Regions from separate parts of the Homo sapiens genome. Here region 2 is linked to region 1. The links come from fine-mapping of genetic effects on gene expression. A gene starts in region 1. The other region holds a variant in brackets. All regions are shown on one strand. Distances are from middle to middle.

Evidence for each region.
Region 2: its variant is fine-mapped to the expression of CYP2C18 in lung (TOPMed, PIP above 0.99).

What each region holds. Positions count from the first base shown.
Region 1 is chr10:94,670,894-94,687,219 of GRCh38, forward strand. It overlaps CYP2C18 (cytochrome P450 family 2 subfamily C member 18), which reads left to right and starts at 12,836. Exons shown (of 9, transcript NM_000772.3): 1 at 12,836-13,094. The coding sequence starts at 12,927.
Region 2 is chr10:94,751,296-94,763,641 of GRCh38, forward strand. CYP2C19 (cytochrome P450 family 2 subfamily C member 19) reads left to right here and starts at 11,386. Exons shown (of 9, transcript NM_000769.4): 1 at 11,386-11,578. The coding sequence starts at 11,411. It also overlaps the pseudogene MTND4P19. RefSeq lists enhancers at 6,637-6,931, 9,654-9,680 and a promoter at 9,446-11,409. The variant A/C (reference allele first, on the strand shown) is at 8,079.

The DNA.
Region 1 (16,326 bases):
CCTCAAGGGAGGCCATTACAGGTTCTTCAGGCAAAACAATAATAACCTCCACAGACAGGGCTGAAGGGCTGCTTCTACTGGCAAAGGAGACACAACAGATTTTAAGGTTCAGTCTCCCCAGCTGCATTGAGATCTGCTCTGTGTGCTCCTATTCCAATGTTCACAATTCCATTCCTTCCAAGTCCAAGCCCTCACTTTAGCAGAAGACACCCTGAAATGTTCGGAATTCAATTTGTGTTGTAATTTTGCCACTTACAGGATGAAAGTCTGGGTTTGATTTTCAGCAATCTTAGCCTTGTAGCTACAGGAGATAAGGATTTCTTTCTCTTTTTTTTTTGAGATGGAGTCTCACTTCTGTTGCCCAGGCTGGAGGGCAGTGGTGCGATCACAACCCGCTGCAGCCTCAACCTCCTGGGCTCAAGTGATCCTCTCACCTGAGCCTCCTGAGTAGCTGGTACTGTAGCACACTCCACCACAACTGGCTAATATATATATATATATATTTTGTAGAGATGGGGTTTTGCCTTGTTGCTTAGGCTAGTCTCAAACTCCTGGGCTCAAGCGATACACCCTACTTGGCCTTCCAAATTGCTGGAATTACAGCCATGAGCTACTGCACCCTGCCTTAAGCATTTCTTTCAAGGCAGACATAGACACTTTCGGGTCATTTATGTGGAGCTTATGTGGAAATTGAAGCCCTGAGTTGAGAATTTGAAGCCCTGAGATCATCCTTTTCTATCCCCACTTTCTCCAGAGCAGTTAGGAGCAGCCAGCCAGTCATTATATTCATTATTTTTACTAACATGTCCTAAGGTATCAAATATGTGGCACTCAGACCTTGCCCTTTATAAATATTTAATTATGAGATTCCAATGGCAGTATCTTGCATATTTCTATTGCCACATTATGCCATGACCAATGATTTCATTATCACTGGAAATAAAGTCATTAGTGCCTTTAAATCTAATCAGATAAGAGAACCAATTTCAGACAGACCAGAACTAATTTAGAAAACTCATCCTTAAGATTCTGTTCCTTTAGAACCACTCTACATACTAAAATCTGTGTTATTGAGGTTTCTTCAGAGAAACAGAACCAATACGAAACACACACACACACACACACACACACACACACACACACACACGGATTGGCTTACTGTTTGTATGGGCTGACAAGTCCAAAATCTATAGGGCAACCATGGAGGCTGGAAACTCTTCGGCAAAAACACGATGCTGTAGTTCCTAGGTGGAATTCCTTCTACTTCTGTAGAAAGGAGCAACACAACTAGAGGTATAAGGAGTCCTAAGTTCCCACTTATATGGCATTAGTCAATAAAATGGGTCTAAAATTTTGGGGGATTTCTAACAATATCTTTGTGGAGCTGTAAAGTGAAAATATGAGTTTGACAATAATATCTCATTGTATTTCTCAAGTTAAGGTGGCAGGTTTTGCTCTTAAAGGCCTTTCAATTAATAGAATGAGCCTTGTCCACATGATCAAGGATAATCTCCTTTGCTGAAAATCGAGTGACTATAGATGTTAACTATATCTACAAAATACCTCTACAGCAATACCACATTACTGCTAGATTGAATAACCTGGGTACTACAGCCTAAACAAGTTGATGCATCAAGCTAACCATCACAAATGAGAATAATTTAAATAATATTGATTTACTATTACTATCCTAAAAATTATATTACATTCAGGTTATTTCAAAATTGCTGCAAGAGTAGATTTTTAAATATTCACACCATACAAAAATAAGTAGGTGAGGTGACGGATATGTTAATTAGCTTGATTTAATCATTCCACAATATACATATATGTCAAATACATATATAAAAATATTGCATTGCACCCCATAAATATATGCAATTATTATTTGTCATTTAAATACTTTTATGAGTGGTTTTACTTTCTTCACTTTGCATTTTTTAAAAAAAATTAAGAAATTTTTTTAATTAAAAAAAGTGCAAAGTGAGGAAAGTCCCCTTGTCCCTTTTGTTATGTGTGAATACAGAGAGAAGGAGCCATGTATGAACCAGAAAGTGAACCCTCACCAGACACGGAATTTGCCAGCACTCCATTTTTGAAAAATGCAAAGTGAACAAAGTAAAACCACTCATATAAGAAAGTATTTTACACTAAAAATAAATATATAGATTATAGAAATACTTATGAAGAAAAAACCATAGACTGTCCCACGGGCCGGGCAGCTGCTCATCTCATAGGGGACCCATTTGAGCATAAACTTCCACAGAAAAACTACAGGAAAACTAAGAAACAAAAACCTGTCTAGTGCAGCTACATATGATTCTGGTGACTGTTGGCCTTATTACTAGTAGTCTGGGTGCTTTCATTGGTTTATAAATGGAGCCCTATTATAAGGGTCTATTATGGAGCTCTTCAAATAAGACATTGTTACCTTTTTCTTTTCTTCTTCTTTTTTTTTTTTTTGAGACAAGATCTTGCTTTGTCACCCAGGCTGGAGCGCAGTGGCATGATCATAGCTCACTGCAGTCTCGACCTCCCAGGCTCAAGCGATCCTTCCATCTCAGCCTCCTGAGTAGTTGGGTCCACATGTGCATGCCACCATACCCAGAAAATTTTTGTATTTTTAGTAGAGACAGGGTTTCACTATGTTGCCCAAGCCGGTCTCTAACTCCTGGGCTCAAGCGATCCGCCTGCTTTGGCCCCCCAAAGTGCTGGGATTGCAGGTGTGAGCCACTACACCTGGCCATAGGCCATTGTTTCAACCAAGCATGGTAAATATGAAGACCCATATTCACTCAAATGTGTATGCCCTTAGAAGGGACACCATGATCCCACATCCCAGATGACATCACCTTGGCCCAGGAGTTCACTGCTGGAGATTACATCACCTCAGATGACATCACTCAAGTCCAAGACCTAATCATTGGAGATGACTTCACCCTTTTATCAGGGATGATTTCATCCTAGATACTAAAACCTCTGCCCCAGCAACACCCATGGATTATCTTTCTCAAGGCACAAATTGAACACAGGACATTTATCGCTTTTCTTTCTCTGGTATTAGAGGTCCTATTATGTTTCTGAGCTTGTTGACTGTTTAGCCTATGATCCTGGTATTCTCCTTGCTGTCTGCCAAAATGTACATCCTTAACACTCCTATGCCTAAAGGAAAATCAGGTAGAGGTTTAGAGGTTTGCTATTGACTGAAAGTTTGTGTCCCTCCAAAATTCATATGTTGAAACCTAATCCCCAGTGTGATGGTATTTGAAGGTGGGGCCTCTTGGAGGTGAATGGGATAATGCCCTGATAAAAGAGGCTCCAGAGAGCTCCTTTGTCCCTCCTGTTATGTGTGAACACAGCAAGAAGTAGCCAACTATGAATCAGAAAATGGCCCCACAGCAGATGCTGAATCTGCCAGCACCCTGATCTTGGATTTCCCTGCCTCAAGTGCTGTGAGAAATAAATTTCCATTGTTTATAACTCATCTGGTCTAAGGCATTTTTGTTATAGTAGCCCAAATGGACTAAGACAGGGTTAATACTATCTGCCATTCTAAAAATTAGAGGAGATTATGGCTTTCCCCAGGGAGCACCTGCCTCATCTCAGTTAACCCCTTGGTCCCTGGAGAGAGAACCATGCACTCCTCCATGCCTTCTCCCATTAGCACTTCTCCAGCTTTCACCATGGCCTTCTGCCCTGCATCTCTAACTATAACCCCCTTTTCCCCTTAGTTACACACGACAACCACATCACTTTACATATACTTTACTGACTTACTGGTTCATACTCTCCAACAATATAACTGCTGGACCTGCCACCTAAACTTGAGAAATACAATGAGATATTATTGTCAAACTCATATTTTCACTTTACAGCTCCACAAAGATGTTGTTAGAAACCCCCCAAAATTTTAGACCCATTTTATTGACTAATGCCATATAAGTGGGAACTTAGGACTCCTTATACCTCTAGTTGTATTGCTCCTTTCTACTGTCATAACACAATATTTTCTGTGCTGTTGAGGGCAACATATGCCCTACTTTTTAAAAGTCCCCACTATTATCACCTTAAAGTTCCCTTAATGTGATGTCAAACCATCAGAGGACAAATCATTCTAATTGTGCTTTTAATTTTTTATGTTTTACAAAGTTTTAACATCGGGTCCTCACTGATCAGGGAGAGATTGCTTCTCCCTCTTGGGGTTAACTAATTCCTAGAGATAGTAAATGACTTTCCTGTGAGCATGCCATGCAGACCAAGCAATCCTGAGTCCATACTCTCACCCATCTTCTCTATCCAGCTCTTACACTCCAAGACACAATATTCCTGTCCTAATCATCCCAGGGCAGCTAGGGTCAGTTCCTACACCCCAGAGCCTGCTGAGATAATTCAAACTAGCCAGTCCTAAACTTACTCAGCTTACCTACTTGGTCTTGCCCGTTCCTTCCCACAGAAACTGCAACAAAGGCTTTTGCTCCTGCTTCTCCTATGCCCCTCTTCTGGCTCCTGACCAACATGGGTGCTTCCCATGTGGCCTGCATCATGTGGGGAATCTTGTTTGTAGGGAATGGTGAGTAAAAAGCTCTTCCTTCATGACAAGAATTTCTGTGTCTGTGTGTCCTACCATACCTGATTAAAACCAATCTCAGGCACATTTTATTGCAAGTAGTTTTTAAGAACAAATGGGTTAAGTTTTCTACATGTAAGTTCAAGCCTTTGTGAAGAGGGAAAATTTTACTTTTTCCTTTCCAATATTCTGATTTGTTTTCTCTTTTCTTTGTCATGTTGCACTTACTAAGTCCTCCACCTAATGTAGAGTACAAGTGATGAGAGCTTACCTTGTTCTTAAAACTGTTGGGAAATTTTTCTATCCTTCACCATTAAAGATAAAGCTAGTTCAGACTCTTTATAGATAAACTTTATTACATACAGGAAATCCCCTTCTATTTTAATTTTGCTGAGAGTTTTTTTCCCCCATAATGAAATGGTGATGAATTTTTTCAAATGATTTTCTTGAGTATATTGAGGTGAATTTATGCTTAAATTTATCATTTAGTTAACAAAGGTGGACTTCAAATATGGATTTTAAAAACTTAACATGCCTTTCTGTTGATAAATACCATTGGTTATGTTGTCTTGTTCTTGTCACATATTGCTGGATCAATATATGTACCTTTTGTTAACAATTTGTATAAACATGCTCTTGAGACATACTGGTATGTTATTTCATATGATGCCTTTGCCATGTTTGGTGTCAGGGTGGGAATGGTGTTCTACAACAAATCAGGAAGTGTTCTTTCTTCCTCCTCTTCTGAGAGAGTTGTAAGGCTGGTGTTTTTACTTCCTTCAATTTGATAGAATTTGTGAGGAAACTCATCTAAAGTTGAAGTTGACTTTGTGTGGTCAATTTTGATTATAAAATCAATTTCTTTAACCAACATTGCTTTCAGATTTCCTATTTTATCCTGTGTCATTTGTGTGGAGTTTAATACTTAATGCATCTTGTGGCCTGTCCTCAATTGAAAAGCTGTACATGTAGAGAACTCACTTCTTGTAGTTTCTGCTTCTCAGGTAATCCCCTCTAAGATCTGCTTGATTTGAGTGGCTTTTGAATGCATTCTATGAACTATTTTCTGATGAATAAGTTGTTCAGATTTAATAATTGTTATCTGTGAGAAAGTGAGGCTGGACTAGTGACTGCACCATTATTAGAAAGTGAAACTCTTATACTGTTATCAGTGAACAGAAATGAGAGGGCCCCTCTTGCCTACAACACCCTTTTTGCTCAACAGCCCCAAAGAGTCTGCCCTTAAATGAGTCACTGGGAATTAGGCTGGGCAGCTCCGCCGCTAATTCCAAAGACTATTTATATTGGAAGCTTCCCAAGCCCTCTGATAGGCATTGATATGATTTGGATATTTGTCCCACCCAAATCTCATGTTGAAATGTAATCCCTAATATTGGGGATGGGGCCTGGTGGGAGATGTTTGGGTAATGGGGGTAGATCCCTTATGGCTTCAGGCTTGGTGTTGTCTTTGTGATAGTGAGTGAGTTTGTGTGAGGTCTGGTTGTTTTACAATGTGTGGCAAGCCCCCCAACTCCCACTCTCCCTTCTGTTCTCATTTTCACCCTGTGAGATGCCAGATCCTCCTTTTGCCCTCTGCCATGATTGAAAGCTTCCTGAGACCTCCCCAGAAGCCAAGCAGATGCTGGCGCCATGCTTCCTGGACAGCCTGAAGAGCTGTGAGCCAATTAAACCTCTTTTCTTTATAAATTACCCAGTCTCATGCATTTCTTTCTTTCCTTTCTTTTTTTTTTTTTTTTTTGAGACAGGTTCTTACTTTGTCACCCAGGCTGCAGTAAAGTGGTGCCATCTTGGCTCACTGCAACCTCTGCTTCCAGGGTCCAAGTGATTCTCATGCCTCAGACTCCCAAGGAGCTGGAATTACAGGCACGTGCCACCATGCCTGGCTAATTTTTTGTATTTTAGTAGATATGGGGTCTCGCCAAGTTGCCCAGGCTGGTCTTGAACTGTTGGACTCAAGCAATCCACCTGCCTTGGCCTCCCAAAGTGCTGAGATTACAGATGTGAGCCACCTCACGCAGCCTCAGGTATTTCTTTATAGCAATGCAAGAACTGCCTACTTCTATGTTGCATCCACATACAGGTAGGAAACCTGAGACTCTGTGGTGGTCAAACAGTCTGCAGTTTCTACAGTCTCATTACAAACTTTGATCTGGCTGACACCAAGGATCTGTGACACAGTTCTGCTGAGAAGTCTGACAGCTGCTTTGCTGAAAATGTTTGTGGCTCTGGACCAGGCTCAGAATCAGTACAACCTCATCTGTCATTTGTAGTGTAAGAAGGGTCTGAGCCTCAGACCCAGGACTTGTTGCCTGAATTCCTCAGCTGTGCTTTTTTCTCCCACACCTTTCCACATGCCAACCCTGGGGATCTGCTTAACTCTGTTTTTGCCCCCTGTGGCTGCTGAGCAGAACTACCTCTGTACTTTGTCCTCAAGCAGCAAAGTCCCACACCCAAGCTTTTGTGGAAGATGCCAATGATAACATTAGCAGGTGAAGCCCAAAGACAGCATTTTGGCAAGGAGGTGATATTGGGATAGGATAATTTTTCTTATGAAGTGTTTGAGGGCCCCAGTGGCCATCAGGTCTCCTGATGAGTTGGAATAGAGGCAAAGAGTCACAAATCTAAGTCTTCCTCCCTCTTTAGTGAGAATCCACAGTAGGTGCTTGTAATCCCAGCTGAGGCAGGAGGATTGCTTGAACCCAGGAGGCAGAGGTTGCAATGAGCCAAGATCTCACCACTGCATTCCAGCCTGGGTGACAGAGTGAGACTCTGTCTCAAAAAAAAAAAAAAAAAAAAAAAAAAAAAAAAAAAGGAAAAGATGAGCCTGGAATATCTTGCTGTGCCAGGAAGTAAGGAATTGCTTAAGGATTGAGGGGGACATGACAAAAGGACACAGAATCCAGTCATTAGAAGATAATTTGAGCACCAAAGTAAATAATGTTATAATGGATTATAACCCATTGAACACAACTGAATTCGTGATTCCGTAATGATATAAATAAATACATGAATACATTAAAAACTTGATGAGGAATATATAGTTATGTAGTATCAAGAATCTGCCCACAAAGTATTTCTTTTTTTTTTGAGATGAAGTCTCGCTCTTGTCACCCAGGCTGGAGTGCAATGGTGCGATCTTGGCTCAAAAATCAAAGTAAACATCAACCATCATGGAACAGATTGAAATTATTTGTCACCAGATATGATGCAATGAGAAGTCAAAGCATCATCTGTGATATTCCTGCCAAATCTGCATAGTCAGGATCTGATTATGAAGAAACATCAGATAATCCCAAATTGAGAGAAATTTTTAAAACTCCAAACCTATGCTTTTCAAAAGTGACAAGGTCAAGGAGGTTGAGGAAAGACTGAGGAACTGTGTCAGGCTGTGGTTGACTAAGGAGACATGACAACTAGTTGCAAAATGTGATTCAGGATTCTAAACTGGATTCTGAAATGAATACAATGAATATCATTGGGACTTATTGAGGAAACACTAATGGAAATGAGGATTAGATGGCCCTAATGCATCAATGTTAATTTCCTGAATTTTAAAGTTATATTTTGGTTATATAGTCAAATTGCCTTGCTTATAAGAGCTATATACTAAAATATTTCAGGTTTAGAACTTCAGGTCCAAAATTACTCTCAAATGTTCAAAATAGAGAAAATTCTCTGTTTGTACCTCCAACTTTTTATTACATTTATAGTTATTAAAATTATATAAATATAAAATACATATGCATTTGTGTATATATGTGTATATATAGATATGCATATATATAGATATGCATATATGTAGATAAGTGATACACATAAAACCAATAATGGACTCATATCTAATCTATGCAAGCCCTTCACAAAAGATTTGATATTGCCAAAGGACATTTGAAAAAGCACCCGGCATCATGAACCTTCACTGAAATGCAAATTAAAACTACAATAAGATATTATTACACACACATCAAAATGGTTAAAATGAAAAAAGACAATATGCTAAGGGTTGGCAAGAAAGAGAAGCAGCTGGCACTCTCAGTACAATTGTAAATTTATTAAACCATTTGGATAATTCTTTGGCAGTCATTAATAAAACTGAACACATGCACATGCAGCAATTATGCTCATAGTTATAGCAACAGAAATCCTTATATTGGGATAACAATGTATTAGAGTAATAACAGCATTATTCACAATAGCCACAAACTAGAATCAACTCAAAAGTCCTTAACAATACAATGAAAAGATAAATTTTGGAATTGTTATAAAATAAAACACTCTAAACTAACTTACGTACTGCTATTTGTGACAACATGAATGAATCTCACAAACACAAAATTAAGTGAAAATACTAGATACTTAAAAATACATAATGTGATTCCATTTATATTACATTTGTATGCCTCACAAACAGGCAAAACTAACCTATGGCATAATACTGGAGTTATCTAGTCGGGGAGGAAGGTAGGAGGAGACATAAAGGGACTTCTGGGGTCCTGGCAAAATTATTTTTCTTGACCTGTGTGTTGATTACACAGATATGTTCAATTCATGATAATTCATTGAGCTATATACATTTAGGATGTTTCCAACATTCTCTTTGTATACTACACTCCAGTGAAAAGGTTTATTTAAAACGAAGCAGTTTGCATTCACAATTTCACCCAAGCTGAGGTTTGCATTACTCTCTCACTGTGGAGGGCTTCAGCCAGGTGCCCTCCTGACCATCCATTTGGGCAATGATAGGAAATCTCTGCAATGTGAGAATCACTGAACTGGGAATTAAAACCTGGATTCTTAAAAAATAAAGATTATGTACTAATGCACTAGCGACCGTTCACCTCACTTATTCACCAATTCCTTATTTCTAATAATAAAGTAGGGATTAGGCTGGTGGATCTCTGAGATCTCTTGTCTCTAATTATCTATGTTTCTTTCATTCTTTGAAAGGACCAGGCAGAAGTCTCAACAGAAAGGAGGAACAGAGACCCATTTTTCAAGAAATAAAGTGATTGTTTTAAAGAAAGGCATTGAGATCATTTTATCTAAAAGAAGGTAGTGCACTTCTTTTAGAGTTCAGAGCTATGTGAGCCAAGCAGTAAAATAACTATTTTTCTTTGTCTCAGATAAATTATTCACCAAAACCTCGACTGACTCAAATTCTAAAGGTTACAAAACCACACCCTAATTGTAATCAACCTATGTTGCAACTGTTGAGTTGGTTAATGTGTATTTGAAAGTCACTGATTATCCTGAGTAGTGAAATATTGCCTCATAGTACATGGTAAGTAAATGTTGGTGACTCTAGTTGAACTGAATTTCTTGCTTGGAGGGAATGATGTCAGAGTTAGGAGATAGGTTTCCAGCCTCAGCCCTATCATTTTCAGCCTCTGTGTCCTTGAACAAAATACTGAATCTCCAAGGCCCAGCTTCCTTACCTCTAAAGTGGAAATAATTTTACCACAGGCAAGGGTAATTGAGAGAATCAAAAGAGTTATGATGGGTATAAAAATTCTCTGTGAATTGTCAGAATCCCTGTAAACATGTTTGATAAAACATTGTCCATATGGGATTTGACAAAACTTAATTTTTCCTTACTGCAGTTAGAAATAACTGCACTAATCCAGTATTATTTCCAATAGCCAGGATGTAGAAACAATCTAAGTGTTCATTCACAAATAAATGGATGAAGAAATTGTGTTTTATATTTATATACACAATGAAATATTTTTTAAACTTTAAAAGGAGATACTGCCATTTGCAATGACATGGAATGAACCTGAAGGATATTATGCTAAGTGATATGAGCTAGATACAGAGGAAAAAAGATTGCATGATTTCACTTATATGAAGAATCTTTAAAAAGTCAAATACATAGAAACAGAGAGTAGAATGGTGGTTACCAAAAGTGGGAGCCAGAGGAAATGGAAAAAAGTGTGTCAAAGAGCCAAATTTGTGGTTAGATAGGATGAATAAGTCTAAAGATCTAATAAACAGCAAGAGGACTATAGTTAATATACTATACTGAAAATTTGCTAAAAGAGTAGATTTTAGGTGCTTATACCACAAAAAAGAAGTTAATTATAGAATTGATTAATATGTAAATTTGTTTAACCATAGTAATGATTCCACTGTTTATATGTCTACCAATGTTGTATACCTTAAATATATACAATGGAAATAAACAAATAACTGTACTAGTCATTTAGAATACCACAATGACATCTTTACAGAATATGCCTTTGTACAAGCATTGCCATTAGTGATCTAGAAATGTATGTATCATTTTAGTGATATATAGAGCCTCATGAGCGCTAAATGTCATCTCCAGTTCAGGTCTGCACAACTGTGTTTGTTCTGTGCCATGGGTCTGTTTAATGATTTCCCTACCTCCCATTCACCACTGAAGCACATGCCTGTTGTTCTGCCTATAATTCCCCTTCCTTGCTGTGCAATATTTCATTCCATTATTTCTGACACAGACCAAAAAAGCAATAGAAACAGCAGTGTCTGGAGGCAAGTGGGAGCTGGAGAAGCCATAGTTTCTGAGATCTTACCCACTTAATTCTCTGAGATTGGCTCTTTCCTCAGTTATACTGAGTAGGTTTCAGCTCTTCAGTGACAGAGAGGGGAGAAACCCTAGCTTTTATTTCTTCTCTTGAGAATGTACAACCCTGTTATTTTGTGAACAGTGTGGTGTAGATTCAGAGTGAGAAATGTTTTTAGGATTTATTTTATTTTGCTAAAACTGTTCTCAAGGCAGCTCTGGTGTAAGTGAGAATATACCACAGCGGGCGTCAGAAGATCTCAGTTCAAATCCCAGCCTGCCATTTATGAGCTGTGGGACACTGGACAGGTCATCTGTTCTCCTAGAGTCTCCCTTTCCCCATTTGGAAAATATGAAATAATATTCTCAGCCGTCCAGTGTTTTTCACGGGGTTTAATGGAAAAAGGTGTGTATGTTTACTTAGTTAATTGATAACCGGTTTAGCCATTTAAGATGAATGAGTTTGTTAGCTGCTTTATGTTTAGGCAGCTGTAATGTTAGTACTACATTAAAATATTTCAAAAGGATCTCATTTTCAAGGAAAATGATCTAGTGTTTGAGAAAGCATTATAGTGTTGCAGTCTTGCAGATCCTTAGCTCAGCTAGGTCCGAGTTGTCTTATGCAGGAAGAATTAGGCACACAGACACTGGAGAGTGAGTGGAGTAGAATTTATTAAGTGAAAGGAAAACTCTCAGCAAAGAGAGAGGCCCTGAAAGCAGGTTGCAGATTGCCACTTCACAGTTGAATACCAGGACTTTTATAGAAAAGCTGATGAGGCTGGGATACTTATTTGCATAAGGCGTGAATTCCTGGTGTTTCCACCCCTTCCTTCCATTGCGCGTGTGGGCTCTTAGTCTAAGCCACTCCATATTGATTTATTTCCCTTCCTGCGCATGTGTTAAAGGTAGGAATTTTTCACTGTGGGCATATTTAGGCAAGCTCCCTGTGCAAGTTCCCTTATCTGCACAAAACATCTAGTGTAAGTACTTGGGGTTTTTGTGGATTGGGCAATGACCTGGAAGGGTTGGAGGTTCTCTGGGGACCCTTCCCTTACTGCCTGCCTAATGCAAGCTGGCTAACTCCTCTCAATAGGATAAACATTATTTTATGTACAAGGAATATAATACACAGATTGCCCTCAAAGTCATATTTCCAACTGCTCATCAATCTAAAAATCCAAAATTTTGAATAATTTTTTGATGAAATAATTTATTTCATTGTTTCTCAATTTTGGCTGCACAGTGGAACCACCTGGGCTGTTTGAAAAAACCTAGGCCTAGCCAGGCACGGTGGCTCATGCCTGTAATCCCAGCACTTAGGGAGACCAGCCTGGCCAACATGGTGAAACCCTGTCTCTGCTAAAAATACAAAATCACCTGGGCGTAGTTGTGCATTCCTGTAATCCCAGCCACGCCAGAAGCTGAGGCAGAATCGTTCGAATCCAGGAAGTGGAGGCTGCAGTGAGTTGAGATCTTGCCATTGCACTCCAGCCTGGGCAACAAGAGCGAAACTCCATCTCAAGGAAAAACAACAACAACAACAACAAAATCCTGGGCTCTGCTTCAGACTAGTTAAACCAGAATCTCCAGGGTGGGGCACCGGAAAGAACAAGAAAAAAGAACACCTTATTTTTATCTTCTTCAGTGAGCCAATGTTCATTCAAAAGAGAGATTAAAGTGCTTTTTGCTGACTAGTCACAGTCAGAGTCAGAATCACAGGTGGATTAGTAGGGAGTGTTATAAAAGCCTTGAAGTGAAAGCCCGCAGTTGTCTTACTAAGAAGAGAAGCCTTCAATGGATCCAGCTGTGGCTCTGGTGCTCTGTCTCTCCTGTTTGTTTCTCCTTTCACTCTGGAGGCAGAGCTCTGGAAGAGGGAGGCTCCCGTCTGGCCCCACTCCTCTCCCGATTATTGGAAATATCCTGCAGTTAGATGTTAAGGACATGAGCAAATCCTTAACCAATGTAAGTATGCTTTATGTTCCTCCAGTAATGTACAAGGTGTATTTAACCTCACAATTCTTAAAGTTTTATTTCATTTTAAAGTGATAAATGATAATTGTATATATTAATGGGGTACAATATTACATTTTGATACATGTATAGATTGTGAATTGATCATATCAGGGTAATTAGCATATCCATCATCTCAAATATTTGTCATTTCTTTGTAGTGAGAACATTTAAAATCCTCTTTTTTAGCTGTTTTGAAATATACAGTACATTAATATTAATTATAGTCACCTTGCTGTCCAATAGAACACCCGAGCTTATTCCTCCTATCTAAGTGTAACTCTGTACCTGTTGACCAACGTATCCCCTTATTTGGCCCATCTCCACCTGCCAGCCTCTGGTAGCCACCATTCTAATCTCTACTTCTCTGAGTTTAACTTTTTAAGATTCCACATAGAAGTGAGATCATATATGATATTTGCCTCTCTCTGCCTGGCTTATTTAATTAATATGATGTTCTGTAGATTCATCCATGCCGTCATAAATAAGAATATTTTTTCCTCTTTAAAAGGCTGAATAGCATTTCATTGTACATATATGTCACATACAAAATCCATTAATTTATTGATGAACACTTAGGTTGTTTCCATATCTTGGCTATTGTCAATAGCACTGCAATAAACATGGAAGTACAGACATGTCTTCCACATACTGACTTCAATTCCTTTGGGTATATACTGGTAGTGGGATTGCTGGATCATCTGATAGTTCTATTTTTGTTTTTTTTAGGAACATCCATACTGTTTTCTCAAATCACAATGCTAATTTACATACCCAAGGTTCACTTTATTCCACATCTTTGTCAACACTTGTTATCTTTTTATCTTTTTGATAATAATAATATCTTATCTATGAGTTGTGATGAGTTATCTCATTGTGGTTTTAATTTGCATTTCTCTGATGATTAAATTTGTTGAGTATTTAAAAAATATATCTTGGCCATTTGTATGTCTTTTTTTGAAAAATGTCTACTCAAATCCTTTGCCCATTTAATTAATTAATTAATTAATTAATTAATAGAGACAGGGTTTTGCTCTGTTGTAGGATGGAGTGTAGTGATGGGATCATGGTCCCTGCAGCCTTGAGCTCCTGGGCTCAAGCCATCCTTCTACCTTAGACCCCCAAGTAGCTGGGGCTACAGGTGTATGCCACCATGCCTGGATAATTTTTTAATGCTTTGTAGAGATGTGGTCTCATTATGTTGTCCAGGCTGGTCTTGAACTCTTGGGCTCAAGCAATCCACCCACCTTTGTCTCTCAAAGTGCTGGAATTACAGACATGAGCCATTGCACTTGACCCCTTTGCTCGTTTTAAATAGAATTATTTATTTGTTATTGAGTAATTTGAGTTTCTAAGTATTTTGGGTGGTCAGAATCTCATTTGTCTAGTTTTGCTTTCATGGCCTGTACTTTTAGGATCATATCCAAGAAATCATTGCCTAGACCAATGTCATGGAGTTTTTCTATATGGTTTCTTTCAGTAGTTTTTAGTTTCAGGTCTTATGCTTAAGGCTTTAATTCATTTTGAGTTAATTCTTGTATAAGGGTGAGATTAGGATTCTCTTTTATTCTTTGCATATGAATATCCAGTTTTCCCAACACCTTTTGCTGAAGAGTGCTTTCCCCATTGTATGTTCTTGGCACCTTTGTCAAAAATCAATTGATTATAGATGTGTGGGCTTATTTCAGGGTTCTCTACGCTTTTCCTTTAATCAGTGTGTCTATTTTTATGCTAATGCTATGCAGTTTTGCTTACTATAGCTTTGTAACATATTTTGCAGTTCAGTGGTGTGATGCCTCCAGCTTTATTCTTTTTGATTAATTTGCTTTAGTTATTTGGGGTCTTTTGTGGTTCCATACAAATTTTAAGATTTTTTTTCTATTTCTGTGAAGAATGAGATTAAAATTTTGATAGGGATTGCACTGAATCTGTATATTGCTTTGGGTAATATGGACATTTTTCCACTATTAGTTTTTCCAATCCATGAACATGGGATATCTTTGCCTTTATTTGTGTCATCTTCAATTTCTTTCATCAATGATTTGTAGTTTTCAGTATATAGATCTTTCTCTTCCTTGATTAAATTTATTCATAAGTATTTTATTTTTTGATGCTACTATAAATTAATTGTTCTCTTAATTTCTTTTTTAGATATTTTGTTGCTAGTGTATAAAAATGCCACTGATTTTTGCATGTTGATTTTTTATCCTTCAAGTTTACTGAATTTGTTTATCAGTTCTAGCACTTTTGTACTGAAGTCTTTAGATTTTCTACATATAAGATTATTTCATCAGGAAACAGACAATTTCACTTCATCCTTTCCTACATGAATACATCCTTTCCTATACGAATATTCCTATATGAATATTTTCTGTCTTTAGTCTAATTGCTCTGACTAGGACTTCCAGTACTCTGTTGAACAGAAATGGTCAGAGGGGGCATTCTTCTCTTATTTCTGATCTTAGAGGAAAAGCTTTTAGCTTTTCACCATTAAATATGATGTTAGCTGTGGGCTTGCCACATATAACCGTTAATGTCACATAGAAACTTCTGTATTACTGGAGGCCAGTTATTAAAGGTTATATGTTATAGGAACATTCCTCAGCATTCCTCCTGTACCAGCAGAGGCTGATTATTAAAGTATGCTATTGTAAAGCAAATACTTCCTGTGGAGTATGTTTTTCTTTTTTGTCATTGTCAGAAATAGTGGAATAAAATAATGCATTTTGCCAGAAGAGAAACATTTCAAGTGGTAAGGTAGAATCAAAATGATAAAGGCCTGCTGCTTTCTTTGCTTCACAGTCATTTGCTATATTTTTTTGCCTGAAGGAAAATGGTAGTGGAAGTGTTTTGTGATTAAAGATTTTGAGAAGTCAGTCACTGTATATGCTATGTATTTTGCTTAGATTAGCCATGATCATTAAACGTCTTAAAAAAGCAAATCATGCCTGATGTCAAAGAAATATCTATGAGTTCATCATAAACATAAACGAATGAAAGAAAGAATTAATTAGTCAGGGCCATCTGGGTGGTAACAGAATATTTATGGCCTCTGTACAAAGCTGCTGTCTGTGACCTATGAGTGTATAGCATGGAAAACATTTTTCCTCTGTGAGATGCCACACATCCTGATACTATCTCTGTTGGATCCACTCTCCTTCTGTGGTGATTATACCAGTGGATC
Region 2 (12,346 bases), 78 kb after region 1:
CTAATGATCCTTTGAATTTCTGCAGTATCAGTTGTAATGTCTCCTTTTTCATCTCTGATTTTATTTATTTGTATTTCCTCTCCTTTTTTCTTAATCAGGAAAAAGGTTTGTCAATTTTGTTTAACTTTTCAAAAAACAAATGTCTTGTTTCATTGATCTTTTGTATTGCTTTTAAATTTCAATTTTATTTCTGCTCGGATCTTTGTGATTTCTTTTTTTCTACTAATGTTGGGTTTGGTTTGCTCTTGCTTTACTTATTTTTTAAGATGCATCATTAGATTGCTTATCTGAAGTTTTTCCTGTTTGTGATGCAAGCAGTTATAGCTGTAAACTCCCTCTTTGTACTTGTCTTGCTGCATTCCATAGGTTTTTGTATGTTATGTTTCCATTATTATTTTTTTCAAGAATTTTTTCAATTTCCTTCTTAATTCTTCATTGACCCACTGGTCATTCAGGAGTGTATTGTTTAATTTCCATGTATTTGTATAGTTTCCAAAATTTCTTGTTATTGATTTCTAGTTTTTTTTTTTTTTTTTTTTTTTTGAGATAGAGTTTTGCTCTTATTGCCCAGGCTGGAGTGCAATGGTGCGATCTCAGCTCACCACAACCTCTGCCTCCTGAGTTCAAGTGATTTTCCTCCCTCAGCCTCCCGAGTAGCTGGGATTACAGGCATGCACCACCATGCCTGGCTAATTTTTGTATTTTTAGTAGAGACAGAGTTTCTCTATGTTGGTCGGACTGGTGACAAACTCCTGACCTCAGGTGATCTGCTCACCTCAGCCTCCCAAAGTGCTGGGCTTACAGGCATGAGCCACTGCACCTGGCCAATTTCTAGTTTTATTCCATTGTAGTCAGAGAAGATGCTGGATATTAGTTCAATTTTTTTTGTGTGTGTGAGAGGGAAGCATTATGTTTCTGCCTATCTAGGACACGGAGCTGGTGCAGCCCAGTTGCCCTTCACAGAGACATCAGTGAATCTTACTAGGAGCTCCTCTCAGCCATACTCATCAAATCCCGTGCCTGTGCTCATCACTGAGGTATTTATGGGCAAGCCAGCTTTGCCCAGCTGTGGCCCTGCATCCCCACAGAACAGGAAGCTCAGGGAACTGGGTACTCCAATGTCCAGCCTATCACCTTAAACAACAGAGAACATCTCACAGTAAACAAAGATCCACTACATACCCATCTGCTTGTGCCACAGCTGGTTCTTACCTGTAAGTGCCATCTACTTGCTTGTAAGTTGAGTCAGACAGTTTAATGTAAAATCTGCCGACAGAGGGCATAGGGCTGTAGAAGAAAAGCCAAAAGACCTTGCCCAATATACTCTACAGTCACACCCCATAGGAAGGGAGGGAAGAATAAAGGAAAAGAAAAAAATAATAGGAAAAGAAAAAATTCTATCCACAGAAAAATAATCTAAAAAATTAAAAGTGGCAGCCTCTCCAAATAAGAAGGAACCATCATGAGAATTCTGATACCATGAAATATCTGAATCTTGTAAAGCACCAAAAGATCATGCTAGCTCCCCAGAAATGAACCCTAAGCAAAATGGGGACTCAGAAATGACATATAAAGAATTCAAAATATAGATTGCAAGGAAGATCAGTGAAATTCAAGACAAGAATGAAAATCAACACAAAAAAACTACTAAAGCAATCTGGGAAATGAAGAAAAAGATAAACATCTTTAAAAAAATCAATCAGAATTCTGGAATTGAAAAATTCACTTAAAGAATTTCAGAATACAATGGAAAAATTTATCAATAGAGTAGACCAAGCTGAAGAAAGAATTTCAGGGTCTGAAGACCACTCTTTTGAACTAACCCAGTCAGATAGAAATAAAGAATTAAAAAAATGAAGAAAGGGTTTGATTAATATGTGATTATGTCTAGCAACCAAACCTATGAATTATTGGCATTCCTGTGAGAGAAGATAAAGTAAACAACATGGAAAATGTATTTAAGGGAATACTTCAAAAACTTTTTCAAGAAAAAAGAGCAACAAAGTCTGGATGACAGCACATCTGTTTGCATCATAATTTACTGAATATCTGAGGACCACTTTTGAGCTCTACCACTCAGAAAAAAATTCTTTTGAAAATATTACTGCTGCTTGACAATGCAGCTAATCATGGCACCCATGATCTCTGATGGAGATGTATCAGGAGATGTTTTCATTACTGACAACACAACATTTATTCTGCAGTCATGAATCAAGTAGTAATTTCAACTTGTAAGTCTTATTTGATATGTACAGTTCAGAAGGCTACACCTGCTAGAGATAGTCGTTCCTCTAATTAATGTGTGCAAACTAAATTAAAAACCTTTTGAAAAAGATTAAGAACATTTGTAATTCATGGGAGGATTCAAACTATCAATATTAACATGAATTGGAAGAAATTGATTCCAACCCTCATAGATGACTAGGAGGGTTTCAAGACTTCAGTAAAGAAAGTAAATGCAGGCCAGGTGCAGTGGCTCACACTTGTAATCCCAGCACTTTGGGAGGCTGAGGCGGGCAGATCACGAGGTCAGGAGATCAAGACCATCCTGACCAACACGGTGAAACCCTGTCTCTACTAAAAACATTTACAAAAAATTATCCAGGCATGGTGGTGGATGCCTGTAGTCCCAGCTGTTCGGGAGGCTGAGGCAGGAGAATGGCATGAACCCGGGAGGTGGAGCTTGCAGTGAGCCAATATCGCGCCACTGCACTCCAGCCTGAGTGACAAGCAAGACTCCGTCTCAAAAAAAAAAAAAAAAAAAAAAAAAAAAAAAAAAAGTAAATGCATGCAGATGTGGTGGAAATAGCAAGAAAATTAGAAATGGAGCTTGAAAATGTGACTAAATTGCTGCAATCTTATGATCAAACTCTACTGGATGAGGAGTTGCTTCTTACAGATGAGCAATGAAATTGTTTCCTTGACAATGAATCTACTACTGTTGAACATTGTTAAAATGATGAAAAAAGGATTTAAAATATTATATAAACTTTGTTGGGGAAGAAGTAGCAGGATTTCAGAGGATTGATTCCAATTTCAGGAGCAGTTTTACTGTGGATTAAATGTTATCAAACAGCATCACATGCAATAGAAAAATTTTTCATGAAAGGAAGAGTCAATGTGGCAAGCTTCATCACTGTCTCATTTTAAGAAATTTTTACAGCCACTCAAAGATTCAGCAAACACTACCATGATTAGTCAGCAGCCATCAACACTGAGGTAAGACCTTCCACTAGCAACAAGATTATGACTTGCTGAAGACTCTAATGATCATTAGCATTTTGTAGTCATAAAGTATTTTAAAATTGTTATGCACACTTTTTATATGTAATGCTATTGCACACTTAACCTACAGTATAGTGTAAACATAACTTTTTTTTTGAGGTAGGAAGTATTTATTGAAAATTGCATAAAACACTGCATTTTAAAATGTAACATGATTTCATTTCAAATATAATTTTAACAGATATGGAATTGTAAATTTATTGACAATTATTAGGAAGTGCCTTCTTGTTGTATATTGATTGATGATATTATTCTTTCTAGTTTTTTTTAGTCATTATTATTATACTTTAAGTTTTAGGGTACATGCGCACAATGTGCAGGTTTGTTACATATGAATACATGTGCCATGTTGGTGTGCTGCACCCATTAACTTGTCATTTAGCATTAAGTATATCTCCTAATGCTATCCCTCCCCACGCCCCCCACCCCACAACAGTCCTAAGAGTGTGATGTTCCCCTTCCTGTGTCCATGTGTTCTCATTGTTCAATTCCCACCTATGAGTGAGAACATGCGGTGTTTGGTTTTTTGTCCTTGCGATAGTTTGCTGAGAATGATGGTTTCCAGTTTCATCCATGTCTCTACAAAGGACATGAACTCATCATTTTTTATGGCTGCATAGTATTCCATGGTGTCTATGTGCCACATTTTCTTAATCCAGTCTATCATAGTTGAACATTTGTGTTGGTTCCAAGTCTTTGCTATTGCGAATAGTGCCGCAATAAACATATGTGTGCATGTGTCTTTATAGCAGCATGATTTATAATCCTTTGGGTATTTACCCAGTAATGGGATGGCTGGGTCAAATGGTATTTCTAGTTCCAGATCCCTGAGGAATCACCACACTGACTTCCACAATGATTGAACTAGTTTACAGTCCCACCAACAGTGTAAAAGTGTTCCTATTTATCCACCTCCTCTCCAGCACCTGTTGTTTCCTGACTTTTTAATGATCGCCATTCTAACTGGTGTGAGAAGTTGTCTCATTGTGGTTTGGTGTGAGAAGTTATCTCATTGTGGTTTGGATTTGCATTTCTCTGATGGCCAGTGATGATGAACATTTTTTCATGTGTTTTTTGGCTGCATAAATGTCTTCTTTTGAGAAGTGTCTGTTCATATCCTTTGCCCACTTTTTGATGGGCTTGTTTGTTTTCTTCTTGTAAATTTGTTTGAGTTCATTGTAGATTCTGGATATTAGCCCTTTGTCAGATGAGTAGGCTGCAAAAATTTTCTCCCATTTTGTAGGTTGCCTGTTCACTCTGATGATAGTTTCTTTTGCTGTGCAGAAGCTCTTTAGTTTAATTAGATCCCATTTCTCAATTTAGGCTTTTGTTGCCATTGCTTTTGGTGTTTTAGACATGAAGTCCTTGCCCATGCCTATGTCCTGAATGGTATTGCCTAGGTTTTCTTCTAGGGTTTTTATGGTTTTAGGTCTAACATGTAAGTCTTTAATCTATCTTGAATTAATTTTTGTATAAGGCATAAGGAAGGGATCCAGTTTCAGCCTTCTACATATGGCTAGCCAGTTTTCCCAGCACCATTTATTAAATAGGGAATCCTTTCCCCATTGCTTGTTTTTCTCAGGTTTGTCAAAGATCAGATAGTTGAAGATATGTGGCATTATTTCTGAGGGCTCTGTTCGGTTCCATTGGTCTACATCTCTGTTTTGGTACCAGTACCATGCTGTTTTGGTTACTGTAGCCTTCTAGTATAGTTTGAAGTCAGGTAGCGTGATGCCTCTGGCTTTGTTCTTTTGGCTTAGGATTGACTTGGTGATGCAGGCTCTTTTTTGGTTCCATATGAACTTTAAAGTAGTTTTTTCCAATTCTGTGAAGAAAGTCATTGGTAGCTTGATGGGGATGGCATTGAATCTATAAATTACCTTGTAGCCCATTTACATTTAAGGTTAATATTGTTATGTGTGAATTTGATCATGTCATTATGATGTTAGCTGGTTATTTTGCCTGTTAGTTGATGCAGCTTCTTCCTCACATTGATGATCTTTACAATCTGGCATGTTTTTGGTGGCTGGTACCAGTTGTTCCTTTCCATGTTTTGTGCTTCCTTCAGGAGCTTTTTAAGGCAGGCCTGGTGGTGAGAAAATCTCTCAACATTTGCTTGTCTGTAATGAAATTCTGAGTTGAAAATTCTTTCCTTTAAGAATGTTGAATATTGGCCCCCACTCTCTTTTGGCTTGTAGAGTTTCTGCCAAGTTATCTGCTGTTAGTCTGATGGGCTTTCCTTTGGCGTAACCTAACCTTTCTCTCTGGCTGCCCTTAACATTTTTTCCTTCATTTCAACCTTGGTGAATCTGACATTTTTGTGTCTTGGGGTTGCTCTTCTTGAGGAGTATTTTTGTGGTGTTCTCTGTATTTCCTGAATTTGAATGTTGACCTGCCTTGCTAGGTTGGGAAATTCTCCTGGATAATATCCTGAAGAGTGATTTCCAGGGTGGTTACATTCTCCCCGTCCCTTTCAGGTACAGCAGTCAGATGTAGATTTGGTCTTTTCACATAGTCCCATATTTCTTGGAGGCTTTGTTCATTTCTTTTTACTCTTTTTTCCCTAAACTTCTCTTCTTGCTTCATTTCATTCATTTGATTTTCAATTACTGATACCCTTTCTTCCACTTGATTCAATCGGCTACTGATGCTTATGCATGCATCATATAGTTCTCATGCCATAGTTTTCAGCTCCATCAGATCATTTAAGGTCTTCTCAACACTGTTTATTCTAGTTAGCCATTCGTCTAATCTTTTTTCAAGGTTTTCAGGTTCCTTACCATGGGTCAAACATCCTCCTTTAGCTTGGAGAAGTTTGTTATTACCGACCTTCTGAAGCCTACCTCTGTCAGTTCATCAAAGTCATTCTCCATGCAGCTTTGTTCCATTGCTGGCAAGGAGCTGTGATACTTTGGAGGAAAAGAGGCCATGTGGTTTTTAGAATTTTTGACTTTTCTGCTCTGGTTTTTCCCCATCTTTGTGGTTTTATCTACCTTTGGTCTTTGATCATGGTGACCTACAGATGGGGTTTTGGTGTGCATGTTCTTTCTGTTGGTTAGTTTTCCTTTTAACAGTCAGTTCCCTCAGCTGCAGGTCTGTGGGAGTTTGCTGGAGGTCCACTCCAGGGCCTGTTTTCCTGGGTATCACCAGCAGAGGCTGCAGAACAGCAAATATTGCAGAACAGCAAGTATTGCTGCTTGATCCTTCCTCTGGAAGCTTCATCTCGGAGGGGCACCTGGCTGTGTGAGGTGTCAGTCAGCCCCTACTAGGAGGTGTCTCCCAGTTAGGCTACATGGGGGTCTGGGACCCACTTGAGGAGACAGTCTGTCTGTTCTCAGAGCTCAAACACTGTGCTGGGAGAGCCACTGCTGTCTTCAAAGCTGTCAGACAGGGATGTTTAAGTCTGCAGAAGTTTCTGCTGCCATTTGTTTAGCAATGCCCTGCCCCCAGAGGTGGAGTCTACAGAGGCAGGCAGGCCTGGTTGAGCTGTGGTGGGCTCTACCCAGCTTGAGCTTCCTGGCTGCTTTGTTTATGTACTCAAGCCTCAGCAATGGTGGATGCCCCTCCCCCAACCAGACTGCCACCTTGCAGTTCGAACTCAGATTGCTGTCCTAGCAGTGAACAAGGCTCCGTGGGCATGGGACCTGCTGAGCCAGGCACAGTGTAGAATCTCCTAATGTGCCATTTGCTAAGACCATTGGGGAAGCACAGTATTTGGGTGGCAGTGTCCTGATTTTCCCAGTACAGTCTCTCATGGCTTCCCTTGTCTAGAAAAGGGAAATCCCCCAACCTCTTGTGCTTTCTGGGTGAGGCGATGCCCCACCCTGTTTTGGCTTGCCCTACATGGGCTGCACCCACTGTCCAACTGGTCCCAATGAGATGAACAAGATACCTCAGTTGGAATTGCAAAAATCAGCCATCTTCTGCATCAATCACCCTGGGAGCTGCAGACCGGAGCTGTTCGTATTTGGCCATCTTGGAATGAGGGGCCTCTATTTTTATTATTTTTTATCTTTAGATATTAACAGTCTGATTGTAAAGTTTATATGGAGAGGCCAAAAAACCCAGAACAGCCAATGTTAAGGAGAACAAAATCAAGTGATTAACCTTGTCTGATTCAACTTCAAGACTTATTATGAAGCTGCAGTAATCAAGACAATGTGAAATTGGTGAAGAAACAGTCAAATAGATTAATGCAAGTGAGTAAAGAGCCTGAAATAGATAATCAGAAATACAGCCAACTGATCTTTGAAAAAAAAGCAAAGGCAATTCAATGGGGAATAATAGTCTTTTCCACAAAGACTAATGGAGTAACTGGAGATTCACATACAGAAAAATGAATCTGGAAATAGACCTTACATCTTTAACGCAAGTTAACTAAAAATATATTATAGATCTAAATACTAAATGCAAAACTATGAAACTCTGGTAATATAAGGTAGGAGAAAATAAAGATGACCTTGATCTGGCAATGGTTTTTAAAATACTACAATGAAGGCACAATCCATGAAATAAAGAATAACTAAGCTGGCCTTTATTAAAATTTAAAACTTCTACTCCACAAAAGATAGTATCAAGGGAATAAGATGACAAGACACAGACTGGGATAAATATTTTTCAAAAGATATATCTGATAAATGATGGCTATCCAAAATTTTTAAAATTCAACAATTAGAAATCAGACACCTTGATTAAAAAAATGGGCAACGGGTCTGAACAGACACCTCACCAAGAAGACATACAGATACCAAATAAATATATGAAAAGTACTAATCATTAAATGTCATTAGGGA[A/C]CTGCAAGCTAAAACCCCGATGACATACTATTACACACTTATACACTGGCTAAAATTCAAAACACTGATAGAACCAAACACTGGCAAGGATATGCAGCAAGGAGAACTATTAGTCATTGCTGGTGGAAATGCAAAATGGTACAGACACTTCAGGAGACAGTTGGGCAGTATCTAATAAAACTAAAATATGTTTACTATATTATCTAGTAGTTGTGCTCCTTGGCATTTGCCAAATGAATTGAAAATATATTTCCACACAAAAATCTGCACATGGATGTTTATAGCAGTTTTATTCATCATTGTCAAAAATTAGAAATCACCAAGATGTTCTTCAATAGATAAATGAATAGACAACATGGTAAACCTATACAATGAATGTTATTTAGTGTTAAAAGAAATGAACTATCAAGCCATGAAAAGACATGGAGAAATTTTATACATATTAGTAAGTTAAATCTTAAAAGGCTACATACTGTATGATTCCAAACATATGACATTCTGGAAAAGGCAAAACTATGCCAACACTGCAAAGATTATTTGTTGCTAGGGCTCGTGAGGAAGAGAGGGTGAACAGGTAGAGCACAGAGGGTTTTAAGGGCAGTAAAGCTATTTTATATGATACTACAATGGTGGATACATGTCATTATGCATTAGTCAAATCCCATAGAATGTACAACACAAAGAATGAACCCCACAGAAACTATGAGCTTTGGTTGTTGATGTGTCAATGTTGGTTCATTGATTGTAACCTATGAGAGTTCTTGATTGTGAGAGGCTGTGTGTGGGTGCAGGGAAAGAGGCATGTGGTAATTATATACTTTCCACTTTCCACTTAGTGTTGCTGGAAACCCCAAACTGCTGTTAAGAAATACATTTTTCTAAAGCCTACTTTAACCCACCATTCTAGTCAAGCTGAGGTTTGTATTACCCAGTGACTGTGGAGGGCTTAATGTTGATACTCCCCTGATCACTTGGACTGAGATGTGAATTCTATGAGACGGGATGTGATATGTCACTGAACTGGGAGTTGAAAAACTGTGATTCTAAGTCTTATACTGAGGCATTGTGATACTTTGTCTCACTGAGTCAACAATTGCTCATTTAAAAAAAAAATCAATTCCTGTTTAGAATAGTTGATCTCAGAGATCCCTTTTGTCTTCAAATTATCTATAATTCTTTCATAGTATAAACTGAAAGATCTAGGGAGGAGCCTCAACTTAGCAGAAGAGAGGAGGAGCAGAACTGGAACACCTAGCTCTCAAGGAATGAAATGATTATTCTAAAGAGAGCAACCAAGCTTATCTTACCCAAACTAAGGTAGTATATTTCTGTTAGAGTTTAAAGTTACGTGAGTCAGGGACCAAGTTATTGCTTTTCTTTGCCCTGTATAAAGGGTTCTCCAAGGCCTTGGACTCACCCAAGTACTAAAGGTTATAAAACCAAACTCTTCTGACCCCCAATCTAGTCAACTTGGGCTGTAATTATTAATGAAATTAATATTTATTTTGAAAATCATTTACTAGACTGAATCACGAAATACTGAACCATTGTACACAATCAGTAAATATCTGTGGACTCAATTGAACTGAATGTTTTGCTTGAAATGAAACCTTCAAGATGCAGGGCTTATGAATTCTAGTCTCAGCTCTAGCACCAGCAGACACCATGTTCTTGGCTACAGTACTGAATCTTCAAGGCTCAGCCTCCTCATTCCTGAGATGGGTCAATTTTATTGTAAGCAAAGGCAATTGAGAGATTCCAAAGGGATATGAGGTGTGAGAATTCTCTCTAAATGGGGTTAGAATCCCTGTTAAAAATGACCAGTGAAACATTGTGCAATTGTGTCTTAACATAACTTACTTTTTCTTAATAAGAGAACTGGAAATAACCTCATTAGGAAATTTAGAACAAATACGATGATATCTTTAAAGAAAATGGCTTTGTGTAAGTATTGTCGTTAGTGATCTAGTAATGTGTATCTTTCTGGTTGTATTTAGACCTTCAACTCAAATGTCAGCTCCCGTTAAGGTCTATACATTGTGGTGGTTTTGTGCTGTGGGTCCATTTAGTGATTTCCCTACCTCCCATCCTCTATTAGATTCACAACTGTTGTTCTGCCCATAATTTCCTATGCTTGCTTTGCATTGTTACATTTTTTTTTGAAAATCAGAAAGCAAAATCAATATAAAGCAGCCATGTCTGGAGGAGACCAGGAGGTCAAGAAGCCTTAGTTTCTCAAGCCCTTAGCACCAAATTCTCTGAGATCAGCTCTTCCTTCAGTTACACTGAGCGTTTCCCCTCTGCAGTGATGGAGAAGGGAGAACTCTTATTTTTTCTCATGAGCATCTCTGGGGCTGTTTTCCTTAGATAAATAAGTGGTTCTATTTAATGTGAAGCCTGTTTTATGAACAGGATGAATGTGGTATATATTCAGAATAACTAATGTTTGGAAGTTGTTTTGTTTTGCTAAAACAAAGTTTTAGCAAACGATTTTTTTTTTCAAATTTGTGTCTTCTGTTCTCAAAGCATCTCTGATGTAAGAGATAATGCGCCACGATGGGCATCAGAAGACCTCAGCTCAAATCCCAGTTCTGCCAGCTATGAGCTGTGTGGCACCAACAGGTGTCCTGTTCTCCCAGGGTCTCCCTTTTCCCATTTGAAATATAAAAAATAACAATTCCTGCCTTCACGTGTTTTTTTAGGGGGTTAAATGGTAAAGGTGTTTATATCTGCTAAGGTAATTTACTTGATATATGTTTGGTTATTGAAGATATATGAGTTATGTTAGCTATTTCATGTTTAGGCTGCTGTATTTTTAGTAGGCTATATTAAATAGAGGATTTCATTATAAAGGACAAAGTCTCCTAATCTTCGATATAGGATTGACATACTTTTTAAATATACAAGGCATAGAATATGGCCATTTCCGTTAAATCATAAATTCCCAACTGGTTATTAATCTAAGAATTCAGAATTTTAAGTAATTGTTTTTGCATCAGATTGTTTACTTCAGTGCTCTCAATTATGACGGTGCATTGGAACCACTTGGGTTAACATTTTTTTGTTTTTATTACCAATACCTAGGCTTCAACCTAGTACAATGAAACCAGAATGTACAGAGTGGGCACTGGGACGAAGGAGAACAAGACCAAAGGACATTTTATTTTTATCTCTATCAGTGGGTCAAAGTCCTTTCAGAAGGAGCATATAGTGGGCCTAGGTGATTGGCCACTTTATCCATCAAAGAGGCACACACACTTAATTAGCATGGAGTGTTATAAAAAGCTTGGAGTGCAAGCTCACGGTTGTCTTAACAAGAGGAGAAGGCTTCAATGGATCCTTTTGTGGTCCTTGTGCTCTGTCTCTCATGTTTGCTTCTCCTTTCAATCTGGAGACAGAGCTCTGGGAGAGGAAAACTCCCTCCTGGCCCCACTCCTCTCCCAGTGATTGGAAATATCCTACAGATAGATATTAAGGATGTCAGCAAATCCTTAACCAATGTAAGTATGCTCCTTCAGTGGCTTGCAAAAGGTAAGTAAATTCACCTGTATTTTTTAAATAAAGTATATCCCTAGAGGTACAATGTTACAAGAGATCATTGTAAAGTAAAATACTTTGAAAGGCTTTTGTTGCCTTTTCCAGTCTGTCAGTGTCAGAAATAGTGGAATGAAATAATATATTTTGTTATTAGAGAAAGATTTAGGTCTTTGCATGTTAAATTCAGAATAACAAACTGTCAATAGTTTGAAATGTTGTGTTCCTTCTTTATTTCATAGCCATTTGCTAGAATTTTTGGCTGAGGGTAAACAGTAAGGGAAGTGTTTGTTATTAGAGATTTTATTAAATAAGTCCTCTACTATATTAGCCATGTGTTTTATTCAGAATAGCCGTGAAAATTGAACTTCTCTGAAGAAATAATTTATGCCTGTTGTAAAGGAAGCAGCTGTGGGTTTAGGACCAGCAAAAGCAGATAAGCGGTAGATAAGAAGTTATAGACTTCAATTATTAGATCCACAAACTAATGTTTTAATTAAGCTATAGCTACAATATATAAACCCCAAAATGACCTTAGGGTTTAGTAATAGTAGAAAGAGGGTTAGAAGATGTATAAGCATTACGGTTTTTTCTTGAGTAAAAGATGTTTTAACAGTGTTAATATGATATGTGAATACACCTCATTGTGTAGTTATTAGCATATACAGAGAGTAAAGGGCTGCGATTAGTATATTAAGCCTTATAAGCATGATGGTATGATCAGATCAAGAGAA